Linked DNA regions of Homo sapiens. Each later gene encodes a partner of the first gene's protein in a complex. Each region holds a gene or a part of one and is shown in the gene's direction. Other genes may lie near its edges.

Region 1 (9,052 bases):
CTCTCCTAATGCAGCCTAGACACAAGTCCTTTTCCTTCTCTCCTTGGCCTATTTGGTTAGCGTTGTGCTCGCCACCCTGGCGCCACTGTCTGTCTACCATGCTTGGGCCATCTGCAGTCCCTGAGGGCTTCCGGCCGCTTTCTTCACAGCTTCCCCTTTCTCTTCTGAGTGTCTCTTGGTTCTAGCTGAGGGCCTGCTTCTCACATCTGCCCATCTCTGTTGAAAAGACTAGTATTTACCCACATTTCTTTATTACATTAGTATGTCACAACAACCCACACATTTACGCTTTTTCCTCTGCATATTTACATTTGAGTCTGTGAAATCTACAGATAATCAGCCTCGTTTTTCCTTTTTCAGTAATATCTCCCACGGCTTTCCATCACCCACAGAAAAGTGAGATGAGGGACGATGTTTGCTTCATGCATGATTTGAAGAAAGGACAGCTGCTTTAGTACAAAAACCAAGTAATTGAAATAAGGGACCAGTCCTGTCCATATTGGTCCTTCTAATTTTCAGTTGAATATTACCTGAAATATAAAGGCATACCTACCGCAAAATGAATCTAGAGGAAATGTTAGTGTGTTTTCAGGAAAGGTTGTAGCTCTCATATTAAAAATTGTAAGCTTAGAATATTTAGGATGATCACTGATGAAGGGAAATCAGGTTTATCCTGCTTGGAGGATCACCTGAGCCCAAGAGGTTGAGGCTACAGTGAGCCATGATTGCACCATTGCACTCCAGCCTGGGTGACAGAGCAAGACCCTATCTCAAAAACAAAAACAAAAACCTGTCTCAAGAGGAGCTGCCTGTTTATTTAATTTCCCCATCCTACAGTTCTGGAATTACCCACCAATCCACCTCATCACCCCTGCCCATCCAAGGTTAAAAATTGACCTCATGGCAGATCCTGCCATACTTTTTTGGAACAGAAAGGCAGACAGTTGCCTTGATTTCAAAATATTGCCCTGCTAAATAAACACAAAATAAAAATAAAATTGATGTACTGGATTGTTCTTAAGATAAATACTTCTAAGAGCTGGATTCGGAGCAAATGAGGTGGGCTGTCAATACTCTGCTTCCAGTGTTGAAGTTCTGGTGTTTAAGGTGTTAAAAGAAAGCTTCAGACAAATTAAATTTAATGGAGTTTAATTGAAAAAGAAAAAAATAGTTTGTGAATCAGGTGGCCTCTAGAATCACAGCAGATTCAGAGAGATTCCAGGGATGCCTCGTGGCCAGAACAAATTTATAGAAAATAAAAGTAAAGTGACGTACAGAAATCAGAAGTGTGCAGAAAGAGCTGGATTTGTTATGGGTTGGCGTTCACCTTATTTGAACACTCAGCAGTGTATGAGTGGTTGAAGTATGGCTCCTGGGATTAGCCAAGACTCAGCTATTGTTATAGACGCATACTCCTAAGTTAGGTTTTCAATCTTGTCTACCTGTTAAGTTATAGTTTGTCCACGAGGACTCAAATATGCAAGTACGGAGTCCTTCTCAGGCCATATTTCATTCACTTTAACAAAAGATAAAAAGAAATTACATAGTCTAGACAAACATAGGTTAAACTCTAGAAAACATCACTGTGTTCCTTGAGAAAACAGTAAGAAGATACCATCACTGTCTTATACGTATAAATTAGCAAGTAGGACAAAAATACATACCAGATCAAAAAACTGCCAACTTAAACATTCACACAGAGCTTCCTGCCCATTTCTTTGGATAATATTTGTTTTGAAAGAGATAAGAAGCCTCCCTCCAAGACCCTGTGCTCCCTCTTCTAGCTTTCAGTTCATGCTGCTTCATCCACCTCATTGTGCACCACACTTACCCTGCAGCTGTCTTTGTTAACTTATTTTCCTCCACCCACCTTCTCTGTCTACCTCTTATTGTGTTTTACTTTTGTCCCACCTCTGCTACCTACTCTGCTGTGATCCCTTCTCTCTGAGGATCTCATCTTTATGTCCTGTGGGAATGGGGTCGAGCCTGGGGGTCTGGGAAGGTTTCCTTCCCACTGAGTCCTGGAAAGGCTCTTTTCCAGGGACTGAGGTAGCAAGGAACAGAACATCCCTTATTAAAGACCAGACACTGACTTGGCACTGTACCTATGCTGTCTCATTTAATGCTCACAATAATCTTTTCTGGAAGCTTTAGTTTTCTTTTTTACAAATGATTTGAAAACTGAAGCCTGGAGGCATTAGGTAATTTATCTAAGGTTAACACAGGAAGTGCAGGGTTGAACCAGGACACAAGCCCAGATCTGTCAGTTGCACGATGCTGCCTTCAGATTATGTCAAGTGAAGCAGAAACAAACTCTTGAGTTAAATCTATCAATACTCAGAAAATGAAACAAATAGAGTTTGTTAAGAGCTGTAGTTTATGCAACGATTTATCCTGATAATCTTAATAACGATATATTTTAAATTATTATTTCTGAATCCAACTTACATTAAGATACTTTTCTAAAAAATTAGAGCACCTCTTTTCATAACTTGGAATGTTTTCTTTGAGAAATTCTATTGGAAATGGTGAGTAGGTTACCAGTTGGCTCTCAGTTGCATAGTGAACCTTCTATGGGTAAGAACTTTGGTATGAATATCACAGTTTCTCCTTGTTTCTTTGGAGACTGCATCAGATGCCAACTAGGAACTGAATGTACCAGGAACACAGCTATCCTTTTACCCACTTCACCCCCGCCCCCTTAGAAGGAAGAGGAATAATAGTAACAATCACAATTGTAGCAACAACCGTGAACATTTACTGAGAATTTGTTATATGCCAGATATTCTAGGCGACCTCACCTATGACTGTTTCTCAAATTTTCATAGTTTACAAAAAGTGATTACTTTTCTGATTTGCATTGATTATGAAATTATGCACATTTGCCAACTTTTTTTAATGGGGGTCCATACATGTAAAATATAGGCCTGTTAATATCTGTATCCCATATTTATATCTTTGACATTTATGGTCATAACAAGAAATATCAGGACACATCTCTGAAGATTTTGGCAGACAATCTGTGGTGGAGGTTTTGAATTCTTGTCGGCAAGCACAGTCTTCCAAAGCTTAGCTTCTGGACCTGAGGGTCTGTGAACCTGCAACATCAGTGTCATCTGGGAGCTCATTATAAATACAGTCTCAGAACTCACCCCCGGGGCACTGGACCAGTATCTGTATTTCAATAAAATTAGGGGTGTATGTGCTTATTATAGCTCATGTCTAGAAGGTCATCCTAGGCCTGGCACAGTGGCACATGCACACACCTATAATCCCAGAGCTTTGAGAGGCTGAGGTGGAAAGACCACTGGAGGCCAGGAGTTCAGAGACCAGCTTGGACAACATAGCAAGACTCTGTCTCTACAAAAAAAAAAAAAAAAAAAATTAGCCAGGCATGGTGGTGCATGTCTGTATTCCCAGCTGCTTGGAAAACTGAGATGGGAGGATCGCTTGAGTCCAAGAGTTTAAGGATGCAGTGAGCTATAATTGGGCCACTACACTCAGCCTAGGCAACAGAGAGAGACCTTGTATCTAAAAAAATAAAAATAAAAAAAAGAAGGTCACCCTGTGTCACCTCCTGTCAAACAATATATTTTTCTTCTGCAGATTACTGGAAGAATTGGTTCGGAAAGAGAAAGAATTACAAGCACTCCTTCATCGAGCTATTGAAGAAAAAGACCAAGAAATTAAACACCTGAAGCTTAAGTCCCAACCCATAGGTGAATAGCAGAAAGTTTTATAGTAATACTGTTCAGCCAGGCTGCCACAAAAAGCCAAGAAAGCCAACAGGAAGTTTTATTTGTGGCTAAGTCAGCATTTCTCACTTCTACCATGACTGCAAGCAGGAATTCCTTTAAAAAAAAAAAATCCAGTTTTTAACTGTAGCAAACTCATTTCTTATAAGTGCAGTAAAAATAGATTATTCATAATCATCTTTTCCTGAGATTATGTATTACTGAGGTAAACAGGGCTCTCTGTTTTTAGTCTTTATTTTTAAAGATTTCACAATGAGCTTACTAGAATAAATAATACTATTTTTTGTCATTTTGCATTTATATTCTGTGTATTCTAGCCTTTTTCCTTATAATTTGAAGAGGCTTAAATAGAATAAAGATGTAGTAGTAAAAAGGCATAGCTGGGGAGAATGTTATTTAGCCCATTTAGAGGAAAACAGAATTCATAGTTATTTGTTTAGATATGTGGCTCTTTCATAGTGGAAAAAGAGATTATGATAATTATATAGTTCTCTGCTAATTGTATTCATCTTTATTGCATGAAAAACACAAAGTCTAATTTTGGTGCACAGAGTTTATTCTAAGAAACCATAAAATTGATATGAAAGTGTAACGTAGGAGTGTCATTTCATTATTGCTTTTGCTCCTTATTTACTAGTAAATTCACTTCTCTGAGTTTTATTCATATTATCATCTATACTGCCAATCTCAATTGTTTCTATGAACTGTTCTCTGATAGAGCAAAATCTTTTAAAGTATCAATAAATGTCTGTTGATTGTGAGGGTCTCAGATGACCTCTGTTAGGTGAAATTAAGAATATCTTCCCAAAATTCTGTTCTAGAAATTCCTGAATTGCCTGTATTTCATCTAAATTCTTCTGGCACAAATACTGAAGATTCTGAACTTACCGACTGGCTGAGAGTGAATGGAGCTGATGAAGACACTATAAGCCGGGTAAAGAAAACTGTCTGTGGGACAAGTATTCTTTCACTTCGTTTCATAATGTTGGGTGCCTGCTATGTGACAGGCACAGGGGATACACTGGTGAGCAAATCAGACCCAGCCCTGCCCTCCTGAGGCTTACAGACCAGGGTAGGCACGTGATAATCAGCTAACTCCACAGATACAAATGTGATTCTACACTGGTAAATTCTATGAAGAAAAAGGTATCAGGTGTTTATTAGATAGGGCGAGAGAGGTTGGGGAAGGTTGTTGGAGAAGGGAATGAAAGAGCTGAAGGCTAACAGAATGTGAGGGTATAAATAGGCCAATTGTATGTATGTTCAGGAGGGGTGTGGGAGGGAGACCAGGGAAGAACCTTGTGCAGTGGGGCTGCAGTGTGTACAATCCAACGAGGCAGGCAAAAGCTCTGTGGTCCTGAGCCCCTTAGGAATTTTATGTATTTGAAATGAAAACCAGAAAGAGTGGGAAAAAAATAAAGACAGGACTAAAAGAAAAAATTTCTTGTTTCTAATTCTTTGTATGTTAATTTTTATTTTATTTTATTTTATTTTATTTTATTTTATTTTATTTTATATTTTTTTGGAGACAAGGTCTCGCTCTGTTACCCTGGCTGGAGGGCAGTGATCATAGCTCCCTGCAGCCTTGACCTGCTGGGCTCAAGTGATCCTCCCACCTTAGCCTCCTGAATAGTTGGGACTACAGACATGAACCATCATACCCAGCTAATTAAAAAAAAAATTTAGAGATAGGGTCTCGCTATGTTGCCCAGGCTGGTCTTAAACTCCTGGCCCCAAGCGATTCTCTCACCTCAGCCTCTCAGAGTACTGGGGCTACAGGCATGAACCACCACGCCAGGCCTGTTTGTTAAATTTTTAATTCTTTTTCAACATTATTAGATTCCACTGGGCAGCAGCTATTTTATTGCTACTTAATAAAATCAATCTGGTCGACTTATTTCAGAAATATTTTCTATACAAACCATATTTTACCTGTAATAATCTAATTCCTCTCTGCTCTGTATAGACTTTTTTTGATTTTGTTTTTTGAGACACAATCTCACTCTGTCGCCCAGGCTGCAATGCTGTGGTGCGATCTCAGCTCACTGCAATCTTTGCCTGCCAGGCTCGAGAGATTCCCTGCCTCAGCCTCTCAAGTAGCTGGGATTACAGGCATATGCCACTAAGCCTGGCTAATTTTTGTACTTTTAGTAGAAACAGGGTTTCACCATATTGGCCAGGGTGGTCTCGAACCCTGGCCTCAAGTGATCTGCCCACCTCAGCCTCCCAAAGTGCTGAGATTACAAGTGTGAGCCACTGCGCCCAGCCCCTATAGACTTTTGTAATGAGCGTGAATAGCATTTGTTTATGTTCATTATATGAACACACAGGCATACATTAAAACATTGTAATATTTGATAGAAAGACCCTCTTAATACAATATTGTTTTGTTTTATATTTAAATTTTAAAAATAAATAAGAATAAAGATATCTCTTCTTTTGACTTGATAATTTATTAACTAAGTAGAATTTCGGGCCGCCTTAGAAATCTACATTTAACAAGTTACAGCTGAATAAATTTAAACAACTCCAGAATATACATTCCTCTAACTTAGGCTCAAATCCTAATTAAGGAATAGTAATTGATAATCTACTAAATAATCACCCTTTTTATTTGGTTTAAAAGTAAAAGCTTGAGGCCAGGTGCAGTGGCTCCTGCCTGTAATCCCAATACTTTGGGAAGCATAGGCAGATTGCTTGAGGCCACGTGTTGGAGATTAGGCTGGTCAATATAGTGAGACTGTCTCTATATATAAAAAAATAAATAAAATTTAAAAATATAAAGGTGCAGTTTAAATTAAGACTCTGCTTTTATGGTGAATTACAGTCAAGTGCCTTTGCTTAACCATGAAAAAATAAGTTCAGAAATTAAGCATAGGCAGTACCTTTCCAGGAACACTTTTTATCCACTTGAGGAAAAACAAAGCTATGTAGCATTGAACTTCTAAATACAAGATTTGCTTTTGAACAGCAGAGTGATTACAAGTGAGTCTCATCTGTTCATTAGAAGACCATTCAGAAGTTCTGTGTCACTTGTAATCTTTTTGCATTTGGAAGTTAATATGGATGCATTTCTTGTTTTTGTTTTTGTTTTTGTTTTTGTTTTTGTTTTTTTGAGACGGAGTCTCACTCTGTCGCCCAGGCTGGAGTGCAGTGGGTCAATCTCAGCTCACTGCAACCTCTGCCTCCCGGGTTCAAGCGATTCTCCTGCCTCAGCCTCCCAAGTAGCTGGGATTACAGGCATACGCCACCACGCCCAGCTAATTTTTTGTATTTTTAGTAGAGATGGGGTTTCACCACTTTGGCCAGGCTGGTCTCGAACTCCTGACCTCAGATGATCCGCCTGCCTCAGCCTCCTAAAGTGCTAGGGTTACAGGCGTGAGCCACTGCGCCCGGCCTGGATGCATTTCTTTGTATTTATTGAGTAACAGGGAGGCCTTTCCCCTAATAATCCTGGAAGATTGTGTTTTTAGTAGATTTCATTTTTAGATTCATTTTTAATTATAGTCAAGGTTTACATTATGAATAGAGTTTGTGCTTTATTAAAGTTATATAAAACATCTTTTGTGCATATTCTACTTTCTCTACAGTTTTTGGCTGAAGATTATACACTATTGGATGTTCTCTACTATGTTACACGTGATGACTTAAAATGCTTGAGACTAAGGTACCACTTTTCTTTCTGTTGTCACTATGGAAAGAGCACCAGGCAAATATCAAAAAGTCTGAGTATCTTCCCAGGCTGGGTCTCTAATTAGCTTTGTAGTTCTGGACAGAGCTCTCTAGCTCTTAGCTGCTCTGAGTAAACTGAGTTAGTTGGACAATGATATTTTTGAGGGCTCTAATAACCAATATTTCTATATTAGTAAGTGAAAATCAACTGGAAGAATTTTTTTGAATAAGATGCAGACTAAGTCCATGCAGATATTCTGAAGCTGCCTTAAACAAATGCTTTAATTGAGTTCATGATGGTGTTATACTCAATAAATATTTGGAGGAGGTGCTGACTTGCCCTCCAAAAACCTGGTATAATCTGATATAATTTCTTGTTAATTAAGGCCAAGCATATAACTTTTTTTTTTTTTTTCGGGATGGAGTCTCACTCTGTCACCCAGGCTGGAGTGCAGTGGCGTGATCTCAGCTCACTGCAAGCTCCGCCTCCCAGGTTCACGCCGTTCTCCTGCCTCAGCCTCCCAAGTAGCTGGGACTATAGGCGCCCACCACCACGCCCAGCTAATTTTTTTGTATTTTTAGTAGAGACGGGGTTTCACTGTGTTAGCCAGGATGGTCTCGATCTCCTGACCACGTGATCTGCCTGCCTCGGCCTTCTAAAGTGCTGGGATTACAGGCATGCGCCACCGCGCCCAGCCCAAGCATAAAACTATTATACCCACCATTATAAAGACAAATTTCAAAAATGCTGAAACTCTAAAATGATGTTTTGGGACATAGCAGTTTGTGGGAGTGAAAAGGGAAGGAATGGAGGGAAGATGAGAAAAAATATACAAAAAGAATACATAATAACTGATCAGACTTTGGGATCTTCTTCTGACCAGAGCAGATGAAAGCTAAGAAGTCACTTTTCTATTTCAAGGGCAATGTTTCAAATGAAATGTTCGTTTCACCATGTTCTTGTGTCTTTAAACAGGGGAGGGATGCTGTGCACACTGTGGAAGGCTATCATTGACTTTCGAAACAAACAGACTTGACTGTTGCTCAATCTAATCTTCGATGGAAATTCTAAAAATTAATACAGAGCTGATCTTCTTGGGGGTGGGAAAATCGAAGGGAGAGGAGAAAGGCGCTGCACTTTAAATCCAGTATTTGTTTACTCATGTTAAAAAAAAAAAAAACAGACAAAACACACTGAAATTTCCTAACTACATCTATTTCTATAATTTTTAAGGACTCTTCATAAGGACTCTTAAAATAATCCTGAACATTAGAACCCTAATGTTCAGGAAGATTTTAATCTAAGCATTTTTATGGAAATATTTTTAATGCAGCAGCTATTGCACTTCAGCCAAATGTTTATTTCACACAAAACGGATGTAACATTTCATGTGATCGTGCACCACTGGAACAAAACCAAAATGTGACCATAACTGTTTAGGCTTCTGTGTGTTTGTAATATGCTCTAATAATCTGAGTAGAAATGCGTAATTTCAATTACTGTATAAAGTTTATGTTTTTTTAAGTGTGCAGAATCTGAGAGCAATGGTTTTTACTTCTCTGTGTTAATTGTAATATTGACTCTATTTTGTAACTTAAGTTTCTGACCTGTCGTACATTTGTTT
Region 2 (4,630 bases), on another chromosome or scaffold:
ATATTGGAATTCATATCTTCATGATTTAGCTAGGATCTTTTATTCCTTTCATAGTAATAGTACGTTCTTGTTCTCAGTAGCTCTTTATACTATCTCTGTCCCAACAGAAGTTGCAGCAATTCTCAGCAAAGAATATTAGTATATATGTTTCTCTCTCTTTCTCTTTCTCTCTCTCTCTCTGTCTCTCTCTCTCTCTGTGTGTGTGTGTGTGTGTGTGTGTGTATACATATATACAATATGACTAATCAAGGGAATTGTAAGTATGGCAGAAGAATCAGATATGCTCATGTGAGTTGAGTAGTTATGTTTAGAGGTCAAATCTGGTTCTCAATTTCCTGGTAGCCAGGGCAGAAAAGGAAATGTGATAGCTCCTATATTTTTTATCAAATAGAAGAACATCCTACAGCTTTAAGACACAAAGCTTTTTTACTACTAAATGTTTAAAAAGAAAAAAAAGCACCATTTTTAAGAGGCTCTGAGAATTACATAAGGAATTGTTAGACCAGGCACGGTGGCTCATGCCTGTTATCCCAGCACTTCGCGAGGCTGAGGCCAGTGGATCAGTTGAGGTCAGGAGTTTGAGACTAGCCTGGACAGTATGGCAAAACCCCGTCTCTACTAAAAATACAAAAATTAGCCAGGTGTGGTGGCGGGCGCCTGTAGTCCCAGCTATTCGGGAGGTTGAGGCAGGAGAATTGCTTGAACCCAGGAGGCGGAGGTTGCAGTGAGCCGAGACCGCACCACTGCACTCCAGCCTGGGCAACAGAGTGAGACTCCGTCTCAAAAAAAAAAAAAAAAAAGGAATTGCTTTCTGTAACAGTTTTACTGAAAATTTAGATGCAATTTTCATATAATATTTTCTCCTAAATAGTCATTAAATGTTGAAGGTATGGCCCAAAGTACAGCCCAGTGAAAGTGATTTGGGAAAGGACCAAGCTACTGAACTTTTTACTGAATGATTAGCATTATTGGATTTGAGGATAGAACAATAAATTCCTAGATCAATGCTCCTAAAATGCAGTATTGCGATATACTACTGGGTCATGATCTATTAATACCTTCCCCAGAGGTAATTATTATTCTGATTATCACCATGGTTAGGCTTACCTCGGAAGAAATGGAATAATACAATATGAACTTGCTTGTCTGGCTTCTTTCCCTTAATGTGTCTGTGAGATTCAACCCATTTGTCAGTGTACCAATTACTTATTGTATTGCTGTGTAATTTTCTGTATAGTATTATATGAATATAACACTATTCATTTTTCCATTCTCTTGGACATTTGGGTTCTTTCTGGTTATTGGCTATTATAAGCAAATCTTTTATGAACATTTCTGTGTATGTCTTTTGGTGGCTATACAAACTAATTTCTCTTGGGAATATACCTAGGATTGGAATTACTAGAGTATAGGTAGATGTATTTATCTGTAAGTAGATGCTGCCAAACAGTTTTCCAAAGTGGTCTGTTTTAAGATGTCCTTCAATTTGGGGATGATCAGAAGCTTTCCACACAGCACCCTTTACAAACAAAGATGCCTTTATGTCTTGTAATGGTTACTGGGGAAGAATGTTAAATAGTCATGTGTCTTTTGCTATTTTTCTCCTTTCTAGCATCAATTCCTGAAGATTGCCAAGCCCCTCTCCAGCCTCACTCCACTGATTGCTGCAGCTAAGGAGGCAACAAAGAACAATCACTAAAACCACACTCACCCCAGCCTCATTGTGCCAAGCCTTCTGTGAGATAAATGCACATTTCAGAAATTCCAACTCCTGATGCCCTCTTCTCCTTGCCTTGCTTCTCCCATTTCCTGATCTAGCACTCCTCAAGACTTTGATCCTTGGAAACCGTGTGTCCAGCATTGAAGAGAACTGCAACTGAATGACTAATCAGATGATGGCCATTTCTAAATAAGGAATTTCCTCCCAATTCATGGATATGAGGGTGGTTTATGATTAAGGGTTTATATAAATAAATGTTTCTAGTCTTCCGTGTGTCAAAATCCTCACCTCCTTCATAACCATCTCCCACAATTAATTCTTGACTATATAAATTTATGGTTTGATAATATTATCAATTTGTAATCAATTGAGATTTCTTTAGTGCTTGCTTTTCTGTGACTCAACTGCCCAGACACCTCATTGTACTTGAAAACTGGAACAGCTTGGGAATGCCATGGGGTTTGATAATCTGCCAGGGACATGAAGAGGCTCAGCTTCCTGGACCATGACTTTGGCTCAGCTGATCCTGACATGGGAGAACAACCACATTTTTCTTTGTGTGTGCTTCTAGCAGCTGTTCGGGAGGACCTTGACCCAATAGTGTTCCCATGCTGTTTCTTGTGAAATGCTCTCGGCTATGTAGCAGCTTTTGATTCCCTGCATACCCTAGGCTGCTGCCCCTATCCTGTCCCTTGTTTATAACATTGAGAGGTTTTCTAGGGCACATACTGAGTGAGAGCAGTGTTGAGAAGTCGGGGAAAATGGTGACTACTTTTAGAGCAAGGCTGGGCATCAGCACCTGTCCAGCTCTACTTGTGTGATGTTTCAGGAACTCAGCCCCTTTTTCTGCCTAGGATAAGGAGCTGAAAGATTAACTTGGATCTTCTAATGGTCCAAATCTTTTGGTCACAATAAAGAGTCTCCAAATTAGAGACTGCATGTTAGTTCTGGATGGATTTGGTGGCCTGACATGATACCCTGCCAGCTGTGAGGGGACCCCGTTTTTAAGATGCATGGCCAAGCTCTCTGCAAATGGAAATGCTTACACTGGGTGTTGGGGATGTTTGCTACCTCCTGCTATTTTTGTGGTTTTGGTTCTCCCACTATGGTAGGACCCCTGGCCAGCATTGTGGCTTGTCATGTCAGCCCCATTGACTACCTTCTCATGCTCTGAGGTACTACTGCCTCTGCAGCACAAATTTCTATTTCTGTCAATAAAAGGAGATGAAAATATTCTATTGGAGTATGCCTTTCTTTTTTCTCTTCGTTTTTTCTTTCCTTTTCTAATTTTTTATATGAAATAATGAGTAGTTTCTTCCTGAACCATTTGAGAGTGGTAAGTTGCAGATAGAATGCCCCTTTACCACTATATACCTGAATGTGTATTCTTTCTTTTTAACACTTTTATTTTAAATATAAATTAAGAGAAATGGGCCAAAACCATTTGTATTGTTTAAAGAATAATTATAAACACACTTGTATCCACCAAATCAAGAAATGGAACACTGACAGTAAGAACCTTCTCTATCTTGTCCTTCCTTTCTCATTATAGCCCCCACCTAAGAGGTAACCACCATCTTGACTTTTATTTAAATAACTTTCTTGCTTTTCTGTATACTTTCATCACATTCAGGTGTGTTCCAATACAAGTAGATTTTAGTTCGGCCAGTTTTTGAACTTTAAATAAACATATCATAATAGATATATTCTTTTGTGCCTGTTATTGTTTCCACTCAAGATTATGTTTTTAAAATATATGTACCTAGTTTGTGTGTAGCTCTAGTTCATGTATTATTCCGGCTGTAGGCACTTGAGAGGAAAGTTAACTTGTCCAAGATGAATTCCCTGAGGACTGGCCTCCCAAAGGATTTGGTTTTCTGCAGAACTCTATCATAATGGACTACAGCCAACTGCTCAAGGCAGTCATACCTGGTAGAATTCTCAGGTGGCTAATTAGGCCATGGGTCTATCACATCCTACAGCTACAACCATAAGGCTTGAGCCCCAGCTCTGATCACACCAGAGAAAATGCTTCTCAAAGATGGCACAACAGAGCTAGAGGCCAGTGTTCTGTCGTGTGGTTTTACTATTGGATCCCAGCACCTAATACTACTAGAGAAGATGTAGTGCTTCTTAGGTGTGCAAAATATAATCCCCATGGCTCAATGCCTGTAGTCCTTCTCCGGAGTATGATATCTGGGCCCTACTACATTTCTTTGCCCCAGAAGGTGATGGGCATTAGAGTTTCCACACTCTGGATAATGTTCCTATAACCACACGTTTCCACCAATAAAGCAGGCTCCAAAAGGTCTGGAGTGGATACTGCCTCATCAGCTGCACACTTCATAATGGCAGCAGTAACTGTGTATTATGGAAACCAACCAAGGAATTAGAGAACCAAGATTCACCTTGGGTGAGAAAATGCCCTCTTGGCACAGGAGCTGGCCAGCCATATTCAAAGACTGGGATTGTGGGTCACTGACTGGTTGCAGGAACAAAACCTGCCAAGCCAAGGAATTTAAGAGTTATATTTCTGAGAATGGAGATCTAGGGGTGGGGGATGTCACCCAGGATGGTATTCCAAGATTGTTTTTAAGAACCTTAGAGTCACCTTTGAGGAGACTTTCACTGCAGCAAGGCTGGACTACTAGCTCTGATTAAGTTCCTGAGAATCTTAGATTCACTGTGAACCAGAGACTTGAGGTAGAACTTAAGTGATGATCTCTTCAGGGACAGAATTCTGTGGTTACTAATGACCTTGGAGGAAGCTGTCTCCCAGGAGGGGTTTGTTGAGAGTAAGGCTGAATCAGTACTGGATGAATTTTAAACTAAAATGTGGAATATGTCCCCCGATGACATGCCCCTTGTGTAAAGAATGGCATATGACCTTACCTGAGCAGAGCCAATCAA
Region 3 (9,052 bases), on another chromosome or scaffold:
TTGCCCAGGCTAGTCTCAAACTCCTGGGCTTAAGGGATCCTCCTGCCTTAGCCTCCCAAGTAATTGGGACTATAGGCACAAGCCACCATACCCAGCTAAAACCATTTTTCAACATAGCCATTTATTAGATGATCACTTGTTTTAGCTTTGAAAGTGACAGCAAAGGCAGCTTACTTGTGGTTACCTAGAAGACACAGGGTTGGCTGGGCGCGGTGGCTCACGCCTGTAATCCTAGCACTTTGGTGGGCCAAGGCGGGCAGATCACCTGAGATTGGAAGTGCGAGACCAGCCTGACCAACATGGAGAAACCCTGTCTGTACTAAAAACACAAAATTAGCCAGGTATGGTGGTGCATGCCTGTAATCCCAGCTACTCGGGAGGCTGAGGCGAGAGAATCACTTGAACCCGGAAGCTGGAGGTTGCGGTGAGCCAAGATCGCGCCATTGCATTCCAGCCTGGGCAACAAGAGTGAAACTTTGTCTCAAAAAAACAAAAACAACAACAACAACAACAAAAAGGCACAGGGTTGTTGATTCATGGTTATCCAGAAATCCAGATTTTTTCTAAACTTTGGAATGTATTAATATATAAACACTTTCTCCTGCAGAATGAGGACGTGGGCTTTGAGTGAAATGATCTGGCTCTTTTAGCTCTAACAACTATTGAAAGAAAACCGTTTATCTATCAGGGCAAGTGTTACCCCTAATGCAAGATTTCAAATGATAAATGAAGCTGAAGACTGAAGGCCTATCTAAAAATATTTTATTGAACCCAGAAATAGGATTAGGAGTAGAAATGGAAAGCTGGAAGGGAAAAGAAGAGCATTGGGGCTTCTTTCACCAGAAATGCCCGAAAAGGGACAATTGCTTAAATTTTCAGCTTGTTTGACTAGAAACAGATGTGTTATTAAAAGTGATTTGAGCCTGGGCACAGTGGCTCATGCCTGTAGTCCCAGCACTTTGGGAGGTCAAGGCGGGGAGGATTGCTTAAGGCCAGGAGTTCAAGACCATCCTGGCCTGATATAGCAAGACTCATCTCTGTTTAATTAAAAAAAAAAAAAAAAAAAAAAGGGAAGAAGAAAAGAAAGTGATTAGAGAAGCCAGGCACAGTGGTGTGTACCTGTCATTTCAGCTATAATACTTGTGAGGCCCAGGTGGGCAGATCACTTGGGCCCCAGGAGTTCAAGATCAATCTGGGCAACATAGTGAGATCCCATCTCAAAAAAAAAAAGTGATTAGAGAATACCCTGGTGAAACTGTTGATAATGAGTTTTAAGTGTCTGGCCTATTTATAGCTGAAGAGAATATTGTATGTTACCATTAACTTTGTGATAAATGCCTCTCTGGTCACCAAAACTAAAGAAGACTATCTGTCTTTGTTCTAAATCTGCCTGCATAAACCTGTTTGTTACTTTTTGTTGTTGTTGTTTGCTACATATTTGAGAATATCACCTCTACTATCCAAAAATACTAGCACAGTTCTTGTTAGTATATTATACATATAAATAAATGTGTCCATCAGTGCCCATTCTTTTAAATACAGTTCTTCCCATCACTATTTGACAGCCACAATATAATAAAGATCCTCCAAGTAAAAAAACTGATTTACTCCAGGCTGGGCGCGGTGGCTCACGCCTGTAATCCCAGCGCTTTGGGAGGCCAAGACAGGCGTATCACGAGGTCAGGAGATCGAGACCATCCTGGCCAATATGGTGAAACCTCGTCTCTAGTAAAAATACAAAAAAATTAGCGGGGCATGGTGGCGGGCACCTGTAGTCCCAGCTACTCAGGAGGCTGAGGCAGAAGAATGGCGTGAACCCGGGAAGCGGAGCTTTCAGTGAGCCAAGATCGTGCCACTGCACTCCAGCCTGGGCGACAGAGCGAGACTCCGTCTCAAAAAAAAAAAAAACAAAAAAAAAAAACAACAAACTGATTTACTCCAAACAATGTTTATAAAAACGAGAAACTATGTAGGAAAATGAGTGAGCTTCTAGACCCTATGTCATCTAAATTTGTATATTCTCTGGTCAGTGGTGGCAGAGTTGAAAACCCACTAAACTTAGAAGCTGTTGACTCTCCTAAAGAGGAAATCCAGTCTGCCAGAAACTCTTTTTTTTTTTTTTTTTTTTTTTGAGACAGAGTCTTGCTCTGTCACCCAGGAATGTGGTGGCGTGATCTGGGTTCACTGTAACCTCCGCCCTCCTGGGTTCAAGCAGTTCTCCTGCCTCAGCCTCCCGAGTAGCTGGGATTACAAGTGCCTGCCACTGCACCCAGCTAATTTTTGTATTTTTAGTAGAGACAGGGTTTCACCATCTTGACCTGGCTGACCTTGAACTCCTGACCTCATGATCCACCCACCTTGGCCTCCCAAAGTGCTGGGATTACAGGCGTGAGCCACCACACCCGGCCTCAGAAACTCTTTTTAACAATAAAAAGTTGTTTGACGGTTTGGCCACATAGACTATGTAAACTTTGGAGAACTCATGGAAGTAAGCTTTATTCCTGATCTTACAGACATCTTAGGGGTAGGTTTTGGTGTTTGAAAGGAAAGGAGAATGGCATGAGTGCTATCCATAAAGTTTGGATTAGAAGAGGCCTTAGAGTCCAAGCCTCGTTTATGTGAGAGTCCCTTCCATTACCACCCCCGACAGCTTCTGCTTTCAGCAGTGGTGAGCTTTATAAAATTACCTGTTCTGGCTGGGCGCAGTGGCTCACGCCTGTAATCCCAGCACTTTGGGAGGCTGAGGTGGTCAGATCACTTGAGGTCAGGAGTTCAAGACCAGCCTAGTCAACATGGTGAAACCCTGTCTTTATTAAAAATACAAAAATTAGCCGGGCATGATAGTGCATACCTGTAATCCCAGCTACTAGGGAGGCTGAGGCACGAGAATCGCTTGAACCCGGGAGTCGAAGGTTGCAGTAAGCCGAGATCGCACCACTGCACTCTAGCCCGGGTGACAGAGTAAGGCTCTGTCTCAAAAAAAAAAAAAAAAAAAAAAGAAAAAGAAAAGAAATATTCTTCTCTTAAACCAAAATAATCACAGAATCACAGATCCTAGTCTGGGTCAGGGAAGAGTTAAATACCAGCATGGCCAAGTCAGGCAACATGTCAGGAGGTAGGTGGAAAACAGGCCGTGTGACAGATCCTTTATGAAGATGGATTCAGGCTGATGTGGCCTATATTTGAGCATTAAATAAACAATTCATGTTTGGTCTTATTCTCATATCCCATACCAGTCTTTCAGTCTACCATGAAGCTCATGATGCTACATTTGTTTTAGAAGTAATAGTCTTATTAAGAGCTATAATTATGAATCTAGATAGAAAAACTACATGTTACCTTAAAGCCACATTTTCCAAACAGGAATTCTACCTCAGAGTAAAATTCTATAGTCAAATAAAATTTGAGAAAATCTATAGGCCTGCCCTTCTTGGAGAATCACAATAAATTTTAGCATGCTTAAAAATCAACTGGCCAGTTGTGGTGGCTCATGTCTATAATCCCGGCACTTTGGGAGGCTGAGGTGGGAGGATTGCTTGAGGCCAGGAGTTTGAGACCAGCCTGGGCAACATGGTGAGACCTTGTCTGTACAATAAAAAAATAAATAAAACAAACAAACAAAAATTCAATGGGTGGGTTGTGGTAATTCATGCCTTTAATCCCAGTATTTTGGGAGGCTGAGGCAGGAGGATCACTTGAGACTAGGAGTTTTGGGACCAGCCAGGGCAACATATCAAACTCCATCTCTACAAAAATAATAATAAAACTCAAGGATTCTGTTTTTTCTTTTTTTTTAAGTCGGTTTAATATTGTTTAACCCAGTATTTTTAAATAAAAAAGCCATCTCTGTTCACCTCTTCCCCACACTCTAATGAGAGCTCCTGTGCAGGCTGGGTTTTTTGTTTTTTAAAACAGGGTTTCACTATGTTGCCTGGGCTGGTCTCAAACTCCTGGGCTCAAGTGATCGTCCTGCCTCAGCCTCACAAAGTGCTAGGATTATAGGCATGAGCACTGTGCCTGGCCTGAATGAATCTTAAAAAAAACAAAAAAAGTTGCTTTATTAAAATTTATTATTCAAGCTTGAAAGCTTGAAGAAAAATATAGGAAATAATAAAATATGTATGTGCTTACCACCCAGCTTTCAGTTCCTAATATTTTGCTGTAATTGTTTCAGATCTTTCTTTACAAGGGAGAAGGGGGTGTTCTTAAAAACTGAAAGCCCACTTAGTGATTTTTTTTTTTTTTTGGAGTCAAGGTCTCACTCTGTTACCCAGGCTGGAGTGCAGTAGTGTGATCTCAGTTCACTGCAGCCTCTACCTCCCAGACTCAAGCAGTCCTCCCACCTCAGCCTTCCAAATAGCTGGGACTACAGGCGTGTACCACTACGCCCAGCTAATTTTTGTATTTTTTGTAGAGACGGGGTTTTGCCAAGTTGCCCAGGCTAAGTTGGTGGTTTTTAAAAGGGAGAATAAGGGAAACCTTTTATTTGCTTATAGTGTTACTAACTTTTAAGGATTCACCAAGACCTCTATTTTCAAGAACTGACTTTGTCCTTGCTAGCCCAGTGTCAATCCAAACTTTCCACAGAGGATTTGTTCAACTATGCAGCCTTCCTGTGTCTTGGTGGAACTGTCAGTTTTCATATTTACTTTAGCAATTAGTTTGACTGATTTTGAAATACTTCAAGGGAAAAAGGGAGAAACCTTAGTGGAGTTTGTAATGCATCTCTGCCAACTCTAGGAAGGAATTCTGTATTTTTATCCTTCTGAAGGGTAAATATTGGCACTGTTAATGAGACGGTGAAATGGTAAGTCATTTATTTCTGAAATGAGGTAACTGAAGTTCTGTGTTATATATTGCAAGAATAATGTAATCGGCTGGGCGCGGTGGCTCAGGCCTGTAATCCCAGCACTTGGGGAGGCCTAGGGCAGATCACGAGGTCAGGAGATTGAGACCATCCTGGCTAACACGGTGAAACCCCATCTCTACTAAAAATACAAAACATTAGCCGGGTGTGGTGGTGGGCGCTGTAGTCCCAGCTACTCCGGAGGCTGAGGCAGGAGGATGGTGTGAACCCAGGAGGTGGAGTTTGCAGTGAGCCGAGATCACACCACTGCACTCCAGCCTGGGCGACAGTGCGAGACTCCATCTCAAAAAAAAAAAAAAAAAAGAAGAATGTCATCATGTGACACTCTTAGTGTATCCTTGGAAGATGAACACCAAAAGAAATCTTGGGTCAGATTTTGTTTCAAGAGGCCTTTCTAAAACCTTGTTCTTCTCCTCTAGTGTGGTAGAAGAGGAGACACGGCGATCCCAGCAAGCTGCTCGGGACAAACAGAGTCCCAGCCAGGCCAATGGCTGCAGCGACCACAGGCCCATCGACATCCTGGAGATGCTGAGCAGAGCCAAGGATGAGTATGAGAGGGTGAGGCTCTCTGGGTACTTGGGTGCTGACCAGGGAAGACCAAAACGGGAGGAGGAGGTCTGCAGGAGACTATTTTACTAGGGAAGCTGGCCTCCAGGGACGGCAGAAATATAAGTTCAAAAAGAGAGCGTGTTAGCACACTCCTGTAATCAGTCCCAGCTACTTGGCAGGCTGAGGAAGGAAGATCACTTGACTCCAGGAGTTGGAGGCTGCAGTGGGCTATGATTGTGCCACTCCACTCTAGTCTGGGCAACAGTGAGACCCTGTGTCTCTCTTTTTTTTTTTTTAAAACAGATGTGTCTTACAATTTTAAACCTAAAACATAAGGAAAGAACTTGCTTACCCCAGATTACTTGTTTTTGGCAGGAAAATTTACAATGCTTTTTTCTATTCCTATAAGATTACTATGGGAGAAGATGGTCTTGGAGTGCAGAAGTTAGCTCGCAGCAGCTAGTTCTGGTAAAGCTTCGTGCCTCTTCTTCACCACTGCAGTTTCTGTTAGGATCCTCAGTGGTCCTAGGAATTTGTTTAGGCTTTGAAAAGTATTCTGATAGTTTGTACCACATAATACTAAAAAATACACTCATGGTCTGTAATTGGTGGTAGATGCACAACCTTCATTAAGCTTCATTTGGAATTTTACCCAAATGAGAGGCTTTTCTGAAATTCACTGTTTTCTTTCTCTTCTGTTGTGCATTTTAGTTTATAAATTAGCTGATAAAATTTTCTCCCAAAAGTTGAATAAAATGGCAATTGTGGTACTTTCGTTAATTTATTCAATACCTGCTTATGAACCATCTACTATGTGCAAGCAGTGGGCATTTCATGGTTATGACTCTCCTGGAATTTTACTTGGCACCTCAAAGCCCCCACACTTCACTGGAGTGAGACAAGCTCTCTACTGCTGAACTTTGTTTTAGCAGAATTATACTGTCACCTTACTCTTCATTAAATATTGAATTAAGTGCTTTCCTTTCATGCCTATTTCACCTCACCAGAACTTCAAGGAACAAAATGTGAAAAAGCACTGTCCAAAAGACCCTGTTTCCCATACAGTTCTGCTATAATACCAGCTACTAAGTTATTAATCAGTGATCCTGAAAAAAGCTTCAAATTGGCAAAACGAGTTAAGGTACTGTTGTTAGCATGACTCTTCCTCCTCCCATCCTCTTGGGACTTTACAGAGCTCAAAACTGAGAGGTCCTGCAATAAGTAAAACAATAACACCAATTCCCAGATTGACTTGACTGCAGGACCATTTTTTGCATACTGCCCTTTAACAACTCAAGAATTTGGAGTTCAGGAAAAAGTTTGAAAAAAGTGTTCTGAAAGATAGTTTCTTCTGACTAAAAATAGGCATGTTCACCATAAACTACATAGACCTTCTACATTCTGATAACAAAGGAAGTCCCACCTCCAGGGTGGAGAAATGTACATGAGAGCCCATGAGAAGTTTCAAGTTTGTACCAAATTCTTCAATGTCTCACAGAGAATTAGGAGGAATGAATGGATCTATGGAAGTTAAATTTGGAGGAGCAGTCACCTCTCTAATAAATTAATCGATTCTTAGGAAACCAAATGAGAACTAACTTCAAGAATGGCTTTCTGATTTAGAAGTTACCTTACATTCCCCTCTTCTACCCTTGATGACAAGCGGATTTTCTACGTACATACTTTGTTCTGTTTGTAGAGCCCTTTCAGTGTTCTCATAGGTACCTAGTAAGTCCAGGGCTCTGTCACTCATCCTGAGTAATAACTGTATCAAGGTACCACACGGGACAGAAACTGTAGGTGCTGCGCACTAAAGCAGATACTCCAGTAAGTGGCCTGGCTTACTCAGGCTGAGAGGTTAAGTAGCCACAACGAGAAAGTAGGAAATAAGACATTAGCTTTGAACACAAAACTTTAAAGGAACTCTAGGGTCAGGTGGGCAATCTAAACATCTGACATTATTTTGAATTATATCAATATTACAAAAGGAATATAGATAGCATGATAGTTTCTGTTTTAAATAAACTTCTTTCACACTATGGAATAAAATATCGTCTATGGGTAGATTAAAATGAAACCCTTTGGGATTTGGTTAAATCTTTGATATTTACTTTATCATGTGTTCTTTCTGATTTTGAAAACTGTCTGCAATAGGTGGAGCTTCTTTGAATTAGAGTTTTGTTCTCTTATCTGCATTTGTCTATCATCTCATCAGATGGAGCTGGTATAAGCAGTGACCCATGAATTCATGGGTCTTGGTGTTTGGATGGGCTCCCTTCAGCTGCCACATTTTTTCAGACGGCCCCTTTGTTTATCTTTAGGTGAAGACTCAGAAGATTGGCAATCAAGGGCAGGGGTGCAAGCTAGGCCTCAGTGTTGGGATTTAATCCTGATTCTGAGTCTCCGCTATCTGCTGAGTATGATATAATGAACGAAATTTCAGACTTTTGAATGAGCACTTGTAATAATGAGACTCTTTTCTTTTTTCAGACAGGGTCTCTCTGTTGCCCAGGCTGGAGTGCAGGGGCACAATCTTGGCCCACTGCAGCCTCTACCTCCCAGGCTCAAGACATTCTCCCATCTTAGCCTCCCAATTAGCCACGACTATAGGCCATGCATCACCATGCTTGGATAATTTTGTTTATTTTTTGTAGAGATAGAGTCTCACTATGTTGCCCTGGCTGATCTTGACAAGCTCCTGGGCTCAAGCTGTCCTCCCGCCTTGGCCTCCCAAAGTGCTGGAATTATAGGTGTGAGACACTGTGGCCAGCCTAGAGACTGTTTGAAAATTAAAAATCTGTATAATAAGCATTTTCTTCAAAAGAAAGATATTGCACTTCTATAATATCTTTTAATTAACTTTCCTTTTTTTTTTTTTTTGAGATGGAGTCTCGCTCTGTTGCCAGGCTACAGTGCAGTGGCGCGATCTCGACTCACTGCAACCTCCACCTCCCAGATTCAAGTGATCCTCCTGCCTCAGCCTCCTGAGTAGCTGGGACTACAGGCATGCACCACTATGACCGGCTAATTTTTTGTATTTTTAGTAGAGACAGGGTTTCACCATGTTGGCCAGGATAGTCTCAATCTCTTGACCTCGTGATTGGCCCGCCTCAGCCTCCCAAAGTCCTGGGATTACAGGCGTGAGCCACCGTACCTAGCCTCAACTTTCTTATTTTTTATGTAAAGAAAGATAGTTGAAACCACACTTGGCCCATTATGAGTTGCTTCTAGCCATAGGATGTAATCCTGGATTTTGGTCAGGGGGGTGCGGATGGTTGTTTGTTTGGTTTTAGTTTAATTGCAAAACAGTTTTTTAAAGTCCAGGGTATTTTTGTTCTTAAAAAATAGAGGCCAGACACAGTGACTCATGCCCATAATTCCAGCACCTTGGGAGGCCGAGGTGGGAGGATTGCTTGAATCCACGAGTTTCAGACCACCCTGGGCAACATAGCAAGACCTTGTCTCTACCAAAAAAAAATTTTTTTTTAATTAGTTAGGCATGGTGGCACACACCTGTAGTCCCAGCTACTCCGGAGGCTGAGGCGGGAGGAGCACTTGAGCCCAGCAGTTCGAGGCTGCAGTGAGCCATGATTGAACTGCTGCATTCCAGCTCAGGTGACAGCAAGACTCTGTTTC
Region 4 (9,068 bases), on another chromosome or scaffold:
CTTACCTATGACATGGAGCAATGGAAAATCATACCCTGCTTGTGGGAATGTAAATTTGTATAATCATTTTAGAAAAAAAAAGATTTGCAGATACCTATGAGGTCAAGGAATTGTAGTGGGAGTAACAAGCAAGCTGGAAAGATGGTAGGTTGTTTAGAAAATATAATGTTGGGTCGGGCACAGTGGCTCATGCCTGTGATCCCAGCACTTTGGGAGGCTGAGTCGGGTGGATCACAAAGTCAGGAGTTCGAGACCAGCTTGACCAACACGGTGAAACCCCGTCTCTACCAAAAAGGCAAAAAAAATTGGCCAGGCCTGGTGGTGCGCGCCTGTGGTCCCAGCTGCTCAGGAGGCTGGGGCAGGAGAATCGCTTGAACCTGGGAGGTGGAGGTTGCAGTGAGCCAAGATGGCGCCACTGCACTCCAGCCTGGGTGACAGAGCGAGACTCTGTCTCGAAAAAAAAAAAAAAAAAAAAAACTAATGTTGGAATTCATGACTTAGGAGACAGAGAAATTTGTGTGATAAAAAAGTACAAGGTGTAACCTTCCAAGAGGTTAGCTAAAGTGGAGAGGAAGTATACATTTAAGATAACAAGGTGTATCAGTTGGTGTCCAATCAGAACATAGACACTACATAGTATTTTTTTTTTTTTCTTGAGATGGAGTCTGGCTCTTGTCGCCCAGGCTGGAGTGCAATGGCACGATCTCAGCTCACTGCAAACTCTGACTCCCAGGTTCAAGCGATTCTCCTGCCTCAGCCTCCAGAGTAGCTGGGATTACAGATGCCCGCCACCATGCCTGGCTAATTTTTGTATTTTTATTAGAGACTGGGTTTCACCATGTTGGCCAGACTGGTCTCAAACTCCTGACCTCAGGTGATTTGCCCACCTTGGCCTCCCAAAGTACTGGGATTACAGGTGTGAACCACCGTGCCCAGCCTACTACATAGTAATTTTAACAAGAAGAGTTTAACATAAAGAATTAACAATAACAGGGGATTGGAGTGTTGAAGAATTGGTTAGTAATAAATAAAGGAAACTCTAAAAAGTATGGGATAGCAGATATAAATAGCAGACAATATAAAAATAATATGTAATGGCCGATACCTCTAGAGCTGTGATAACCCTCCTCTCCACCCACGGTCGAGATCCAGGCCTTATTGGAGAAGTTGCTCTGGTGCTGAGTTGGTGGAACTTGTTGGATGTACATTCTCTGGAACTTGCTGAAATATACCCCTCTACGGTGCTGGTTCACATGGAAGGTGTCTGTCTCATCAGAGATTCTTTGCTGCCTAAACACTCAAGGGTAGTGCCTGGGGAGGTTGCTACCTACTGTTTGTTGGGAAAACCAGTGCTGCAGAAGGTGGGCAATAGGAAAGCTGGGAGCTCAGCAGGAGCTTGTGGAGTGAGCGCACAGAAAACAGGAAGTAAAACCCCTTCTTCCTGCAATGTCTCTCCACCACTGCCTACTGATAAAACTTTGTATCATGCCAGCTGGCAAAGTCAGAAATATTTCAAGGTCCCAGGTCCATTTCACAGAATAGGCATAAAGGGGAAATGAGAGGTAATAAATTGATTACAGGTTGAGAAGTTCAAGGAACTGAGAGGTCTTGATGTTGGATTGTTGTTCTTGTGGATATTGAAATGACCCAAGTGTTGGCAGAAATTAGAGTGGTGTAGAAGGTTAGAGACCAATAAACTCATTTCTCTAAGTGTGACCTTGGTCTATCTGCATCAGAATCAAGTGGGATACTTTGATAACACAAATTCCTTTTTCCCACTGCAGATCTTCTGAACTGGAGTATCTGGGAAGAGAGCTCCCAAATATTCTTTTTTAGTAAGTGCCTTAGTAGATTTGAAATGAAAGAGAATCGGTTAGTAACATTTTAAACACACAAAACTAAATAGTAAAACAGGTACCAGTGTACCCAGCATTCAGTCTTAACAAATGTTCACATTTGCCTTATTTCCTGAAGATCTTTTGATTTTTCATGAAATGTTACCTATTTTAGCTTAAGTTCCACTCTCACCTTCCTTTCTCCTTTATGCCTCACAGGAGATGATCATATGAACATTGTTTTTTGTCAATTCCTGCTTTAGGCAATAGAGAGCCTTTGAGGGTTTTTGAACAGGGGTATTAACACTAGAGGTGTTTTTGGAAAATCAACCCAAATGTGCCCTGTTAGAGAGTTCATTAGGATGAGAGGATGGAGGTGGAAAGCCCTTGAAGAGGCAGGTTCAGTGGCCCAGAGGGTGTGGTACTGAGGATCTGAGGTAGGGTGAGAGATCTTTGCTTTTTTTTCTCATGCTCTTGTGTGAAGCCTGCTCTTTGTGTTGCTGTGACCCCCAGTCTTTGAATTCCCCCTCTTCCCCTATTCCCTCAGTTCATCAGCTCCTTTCTAGCTTCATTTGAGTCCCTAACCAGCCTGGGTTTCATGGGTACCCATTTCACCTATATGCTTGCCACTGCCCTGGAATTCCTTGCTTTGTTGACATTTTACCACACCAACTGTAACTTCCAATCTTTATACAAATAGAACTGGTTCTTTTGCCTTGAGGCAGTGGCCTTGCCATTCTGATATACTTTATTACTCATAGTAATATTTGCTATAGTGAGTGTCCAAAATGAGGCAGAGTTTTATCCAGATGACCTTGGTGAACTCAAGACTGTTTTGGAGGAGGCTGGGTTCACAAAACTTACTCAGGCTTTGTTCTTCATCAGAAGATGTAAGTGATACCTCAATAATACTGCCAGATTTTGTTTGTCTGTAGAGTAAAATTTTGATGAGCAGTTGTGAAAACTGTTCAGATGACATATAAAAATGTGTTTAAGTTCGTCAGATTTGGGAATTTTATTTATCAACAAATGTATTCTGTTTTTATTTCCATTACATAGATTTGGCCATGGGTCAACGTCAATGAAAACTTTTGATTGATTATACTTATTTTGCTTAAGTCACAAGTACATCAAGCAAACCTTGTTATAGAACTATGGACAGACACAATAACATGAATGAGTATGAAAATGATGATGTTGAGTTAAGAAGCCAGAAAAAAGATAGTACCATACTGTGTACTTCCATTTATATAAGATTCTTGAAAATGCAAACTAATCTATAGACACTGAAAATAGATTGGTGGTTGCCTGGCATTTGGAGGCAAAGAGGAAAGAAAGAATTGAAAGGGCACGAGGACAATTTTGGGGGTGATGGAAAGGCTTATCTGGATTGCATTTGTGTGATTGTATCAAAGATGTATGTATATGTCAAAATTCATTAAATCATATATATGCAGTTCCTTATGTGTCAATTACAGCTTAATAAAATGGTAAAAATCATTAACAAGAAAAAATGTTTGTTTTAAGCCATTTAAACCAACCAACAAACAAAAAATCCTTGCTATAATCAGTTACTGTCTATATCAGGGACACCATCTGAATACATTCATTTATTCATTCAGCATTTTTTAACATCTACTGTGTATACCTGGCAGTCTGCTGGTAACACAGTGTTAAATAAAAAAAAACAAGACCCCGAGTTTAGGAAGTTTACATTCTTGTGGAGGAGTCAGATCATCAGATCAACAAGTGATAATAGTAAAGTGTGACAAGTGTCCTGACAGAGCAAGAAAGGGCAGCTTTGAAAATGTTTAGTAGGGTTATCTAAGCTGATTCTTTGGTAGTAGATGCCTGAAGCTGTGTTGAAAAGAATTCTGAGGCTTAGTAGGAAAGAGCTATACATGATCTGATGTCTCCCATGCACGAGGAGAGGTAATCATGGTAAGTGCCACACATTTGCCAACATAGGGTTATACTATTAAAGTTGGCCTTATCATAAATTTCCCAATAGTATGCCTATTTCAAGTGGTTCTGAAAATGTTTGAGAATGATGAAGATCTCTTGTTATAGACAGTTTTTTTTTCAGAGCAGTATTTTAAGTGCAAAGTGTTTTTTTGTTGTTGTTGTTGTTGGGAAAATAAGAATCTTCCATATTGTAGTGTAGACAGAGGACAAGTGCTCTTTTGTTCTCAAACATTCTATTTTTTCAAGTGTATTTTACCCACTTATGTGACTGAGTCTGAGCCTTTGCTAAGGGTACTGCAGCTGGATTATGTAGTGGAACCAGGTCCAGAAAAAGAATTGCTAAAGAATGCAAGTAAACAGGATGTCAGATGTTATCCTTAGCCTATTTCCCTAAACATAGCTTTTTGGCTGCAAAGTAAAATGCCATTCTTCTAGCTTCTGCTTATACACAGTGATGGCTGACAGCAGGCATAATCTTCGTTTGCTTGGCACGTTGTCACCATGCAACTCAACGTGTTTTGCAAGGAATGATCGTGACACACCATCTCTGGGAGATACTATGAGGACATCCGGCTATTTCTTGGAAGAATTTTCTGTCTACCTTCTTTGAGCCCTGTTGTGCCAGCACATCTCCCCATGAGGCTCAGATCTGTCTGACCTAAGAGCCAGTTGGCATCGTCCTCCTAACAGAAGCCAGATTTTCACTGGGGCTAGACTATTTATTGACAGTGTTTTCCCAGACTGGCCCATGAGTGTCTCATTTCCAAGGTCCCCTGAAGTGCTGGCTCACCTCTGTTTCCCAAAGCACTTGCTTGCTTGTCTCTCCTCCCTCCCCAGCATCCTTTTCACTTTCTTCCCTTATAACTTCTTGCACTCTGTGTGCGTGTGTGTGTATGCGTGTGTGCATGTGCGTTTCTTCTTTTTTTTTATCCTAACGAATTTGTTTTGCAGGTTTTGAAAAGGAAAAACCAGCGTTATCCAGGATTGTTAAATTAATTCTTATCTGTTTCCACATCTTGGACCGTGATCTCTGTGGTTTTAAAATCCCATATTTTGAGTGGGTTCCGCTGTTGTTTAAGAAAAGTTGCTTTAAACCTTTGCTCTGCAAGCACCCGAAGAGAACTCATAAAAAGGAAGACAACAGCAGATGCAATCGCGGATGTGGCTTAGTCCTTGCAGCTGCCCCAGAGTGCTGTTTGGAGTGTACCGTCCTCAGTAATGAATCCAGAAGAACAAATCGTGACATGGCTTATATCTTTGGGAGTTTTAGAGTCCCCTAAAAAGACCATCTGTGATCCGGAGGAGTTTTTAAAGTCCTCGCTGAAAAATGGGGTAGTTCTGTGCAAACTGATCAACAGACTCATGCCTGGCTCTGTGGAAAAGGTAAGGGAAATTTGCAGTCTCTTTGGGATTGCTTATCACCAGAGAGCAGCAATCATGTAACTCTTGAGATTTTTCTATTTCCCAGGCCATGGGAATCTCCTACTTTAATATTTTTCTAAGAGTTAGACATTCTTTCTTACTGTTTTTGTAGTTTGAAAATGTAAGAAAATGAAACGTTATTCTTTAGTAATTGGCCCCCAAATTGTAGTATAGGGAAAACCTGTGACACCACTGGCAACAAGGGACAAGGAGAACACTCATATCACAAGCTTGCTCTATCATGGAGATGCATGTTACATCTCCTTGTGTACCGAGGACATGTTTTGAACTTGGGGTACTTATGAGTCTGTGGAAAAATAGAATGATTTATAACAGATCTTGGTGGTGTTTATTGGCAGTTTGATTAAAATCAGTGTAGATTTCCTTTTAGAAAAATCCATTGAAGGAGAGACTATATAGCAACTAGGAAAAAAATAATTCAAAATGTCACATAAAGTTTGTAAAAGCAATAGAAACCAGATATATGTTTCGAATGCAATGTGCGTTCAAAGTGAAACTAACTTTACTCTCTTTAAAACAATTCAAGATTTTTAATAGCTGGAAATCCACGATCACGAGAATAGATAATTTCTAAAGTAGGCACTTTAAGTAAGCTTAAAGGTACAATTTTACATTTACTTTCTTAAGGTCATCATGGACTGTGAGCATAGCACTTTTGCCTTCATGAGCCAGTTTGTATTTTTATTGAGCAAATAAATTTACTTATAATTTCTTAAACTTGAGAAAGAGTGATTAAATAGTGATAAAATGTAAAGAAGTGTGGTCAAATGTAGAGGGGAAATAGAATTTTATTAAATTATCAGGGGGAAGGAGGAGAGAGAGGTACCAGGGATTGCTTCCTTTCTTGAAAGCAAGAACTAAGCTCAAAAAACTGTCTTGGTCTCCCTAATTTGCCATCAGCACACTGGAACAGAAGGCATGAGAGAAAGCTTGTAAGTAGACATGGCTTGCCACTAAAGGTTTGGTGACATTTGAAACAAAGATCGACCGTTTAGATTTTTGCATCACTTCCTTCAGTGGTTATTTCTCTTCCTGGATTGACAGCAGTGTTGCCCCACACCTTAAGAGGCCTGCTTTCTCTAGTTATCAGCAAATGATGAGTATACTTTGCTTGGCATGGGATGACAATCTCCAAGTGACATTTCACTGTGTTCCTCTAGTTTTGTCTGGATCCCCAAACTGAAGCTGACTGCATCAACAACATCAATGACTTCCTGAAAGGATGTGCAACCCTCCAAGTGGAAGTAAGCCTACCCCGGGTGCCTTCCCTGTTGTCATCGTTTTTTTGCTCTGCTAATCAAGATTGGTAGTAAGAGTACTTGTTTATTTTCACTGTCATTGGCCACTGAGTTAAACAGAGGTAGCAGACTGGTGGTCCCCAGTAATGGATTGCTAGTCTGTCTTTTCCAGAAACCAGTTCCAAGCAAAACAAAACAAAATAAAAACTCACACAATAATGCCTTTTATATACAGCATCCAAGCCCTGTAAACAGGCTTCCAGTGACAGAGCTTGTGTGGGTGTGTTCTCCTACTAAGGGGAACCAAAAGTGGGCCACTGACTGTTGGAGAGGGTCACTGTAATCCTCCCAAGTTGAGAAAAGAGGAAAGGCCATTGTTACTCCTTCCCATTAACACTTTAGAACAGAGGCCTTGAAAAGCTGAGAGAACTTGGCTTTGAGGTAGAAATTGTATAGTAAATTTTGTGGCATTATTTTATATTATATGGATCCCTACAGTGTGTATAGGAAGTGTTACTGAAAGGGAGGTGATACTTCCACACGAGCATCAAGTTGCTTAACTTCTCTGTGCTTCAGTATTTTTATCTGTAAAACGGACATGCTAATAGCCAACTCATGGGATTGCTTTAAGAATCAAATAAGGCCGGGCATGATGGCTCATGCCTTTAATCCTAGGCCAAGGCAGAAGGATTGCTATAGCCCAGGAGTTCGAGACCAGCCTGGACAGTATGGTGAAATGGTGACTCTACAAAAAATACAAAAATTAGGCAGGCGTGGTGGCTTGTGCCTGTAGTCCCAGCTACTCGGGAGGCTGAGGTGGGAGGATCGCTTGAACCCAAGAGGTGGTGGAGGTTGCAGTGAGCTGTGATTGCACCACTGCACTCCAGCCTGAATGACAGAAAGAGACCTTGTCTCGAAAAAAAAAAAAAGAATCAAATAAGATACTGCATAATAATTTAGGGCCAAGAGCTCCAACCTTGTAAGATCTATGAGATAATTTATGTAGAGTCCTTAGCATAGGGCCTGGGACAGAAGAAGTACTCTATATTAATAGACTAGTATTAGTCATATTATCCGTGGACAAATAGTTGTGGTTTAAGCATGGACTGTGGTGCTAAACTTTTTGGGTTCAAATCTCAGTTCTCTCTTACTAGCAGCTTTGTGACCTTGGGCATGTTACTTAACTATGACTCTAGGCCTCAGTCTTCCTACCTACAAAATGGGAATAATAGTGGCACCGAATTCATAGGACTCGTGTGACCTTTTTAAAAAATATTATTTCAATAGTTTGGGAGGAACAGGTAGGTGGTGTTTGGTTACATGGATAAGTTATTCAGTGGTGATTTCTGAGATTTTGGTGCATCCATCACTTGAGCAGTGTACACTGTACCCAATGTAGAGTCTTTTATCCCTCACCCTACTCCCACCCTTCCCCCTGAGTCCCCAGAGCCCATTACATCATTCCTATGCCTTTGCATCCTCATAGCTTAGCTCCCCCTTATAAGTGAGAACATATGATGTTTGGTTTTCCATTCCTGAGTTACTTCCCTTAGAATAATGGTCTCCACCTCCACCCAGGTTGTCGTGAATGCCATTATTTTGTTCCTTCTTATGGCTGAGTAGTATTCCATGGTGTGTGTGTGTGTGTGTGTGTGTGTATGTATACATATTATATATATGTATATTACATTTTCTTTATCCACTCTTTGGCTGATGGGCATTTAGGCTGGGTCCATAACTTTGCAATTGCAAATTGTGCTACTATAAATATGTGTGTGCAAGTGTCCTTTTCATATAGTGACTTCTTTTCCTCTGGGTAGATACTCAGTAGTAGGATTACTGGATCAAATGGTAGTTCTACTTTTACTTCTTTAAGGAATCTCCATACTTAAGGTTTTCCATAGTGGTTGTACTAGTTTACATTCCCACCAGCAGTGTAGAAGTGTTTCCTTTTCACCACATTCATGCCAACATCTAATATTTTTTGTTTTTTTTTTAATTGTGGCCATTTCTGCAGGAGTGAGGTGATATCTCATTGTGGTTTGATTTGCATTTCCAGTGCTTAGTGATGTTGAGCATTTTTTCATATGTTTCTTGGCCATTTGTATATGTTCTTTGAGAATTGTCTATTCATGTCCTTAGCCCACTTTTTGATGGGATTATTTGTTTTTTGTTTTTGTTTTGTTTTGTTTTTTGAGACTGAGTCTCACTCTGTTGCCCAAGCTGGAATGCAGTGGTGTGATCTTGGCTCACTGCAACCTCTACCTCCCTGGTTCCAGCGATTCTCCTGCCTCAGCCTCCTGAGTAGCTGGGAATACAGGCGCCCGCCACCATGCCTGGCTAATTTTTGTGTTGTTAGTAGAGACAGGGTTTCACTATGTTGGCCAGGCTGGTCTCAAACTCCTGACCTCAGGTGATCCGCCCGCCTGGGTCTCCCAAAGTGCTGGGATTACAGGCGTGAGCCACCGCACCCGGCCTATTTGTTTATTTTTATTTCTACTTTATTTATTTATTTATTTATTTATTTATTTATTTATTTATCTATTTATTTATTTTTGCTGATTTGTTTGAGTTCCTTGTCGATTCT

The links.
Region 2: MAP3K5 (region 1) and PAK1 share a complex: the UniProt entries of both Homo sapiens proteins name them as parts of the cytoplasmic complex.
Region 3: MAP3K5 (region 1) and DCP1A share a complex: the UniProt entries of both Homo sapiens proteins name them as parts of the cytoplasmic complex.
Region 4: MAP3K5 (region 1) and ARHGEF6 share a complex: the UniProt entries of both Homo sapiens proteins name them as parts of the cytoplasmic complex.

The regions. Positions count from the first base shown.
Region 1 is NC_000006.12:136,557,170-136,566,221, reverse strand, and holds part of MAP3K5 (mitogen-activated protein kinase kinase kinase 5), read left to right. Parts: intron 1-3,606; coding exon 3,607-3,719; intron 3,720-4,576; coding exon 4,577-4,689; intron 4,690-7,345; coding exon 7,346-7,422; intron 7,423-8,403; coding exon 8,404-8,464; 3' UTR 8,465-9,052. UniProt on the Homo sapiens protein: Serine/threonine kinase which acts as an essential component of the MAP kinase signal transduction pathway. Plays an important role in the cascades of cellular responses evoked by changes in the environment.
Region 2 is NC_000011.10:77,320,343-77,324,972, reverse strand, and holds the end of PAK1 (serine/threonine-protein kinase PAK 1), read left to right. Parts: intron 1-1,612; coding exon 1,613-1,699; 3' UTR 1,700-1,818; coding exon of another isoform or gene 1,819-1,836; 3' UTR 1,837-2,956; downstream 2,957-4,630. UniProt on the Homo sapiens protein: Protein kinase involved in intracellular signaling pathways downstream of integrins and receptor-type kinases that plays an important role in cytoskeleton dynamics, in cell adhesion, migration, proliferation, apoptosis, mitosis, and in vesicle-mediated transport processes.
Region 3 is NC_000003.12:53,308,614-53,317,665, reverse strand, and holds part of DCP1A (mRNA-decapping enzyme 1A), read left to right. Parts: intron 1-5,286; coding exon 5,287-5,425; intron 5,426-9,052. UniProt on the Homo sapiens protein: Necessary for the degradation of mRNAs, both in normal mRNA turnover and in nonsense-mediated mRNA decay. Removes the 7-methyl guanine cap structure from mRNA molecules, yielding a 5'-phosphorylated mRNA fragment and 7m-GDP.
Region 4 is NC_000023.11:136,776,833-136,785,900, reverse strand, and holds the start of ARHGEF6 (rho guanine nucleotide exchange factor 6), read left to right. Parts: upstream 1-4,968; 5' UTR 4,969-5,018; coding exon 5,019-5,183; intron 5,184-6,403; coding exon 6,404-6,487; intron 6,488-9,068. UniProt on the Homo sapiens protein: Acts as a RAC1 guanine nucleotide exchange factor (GEF).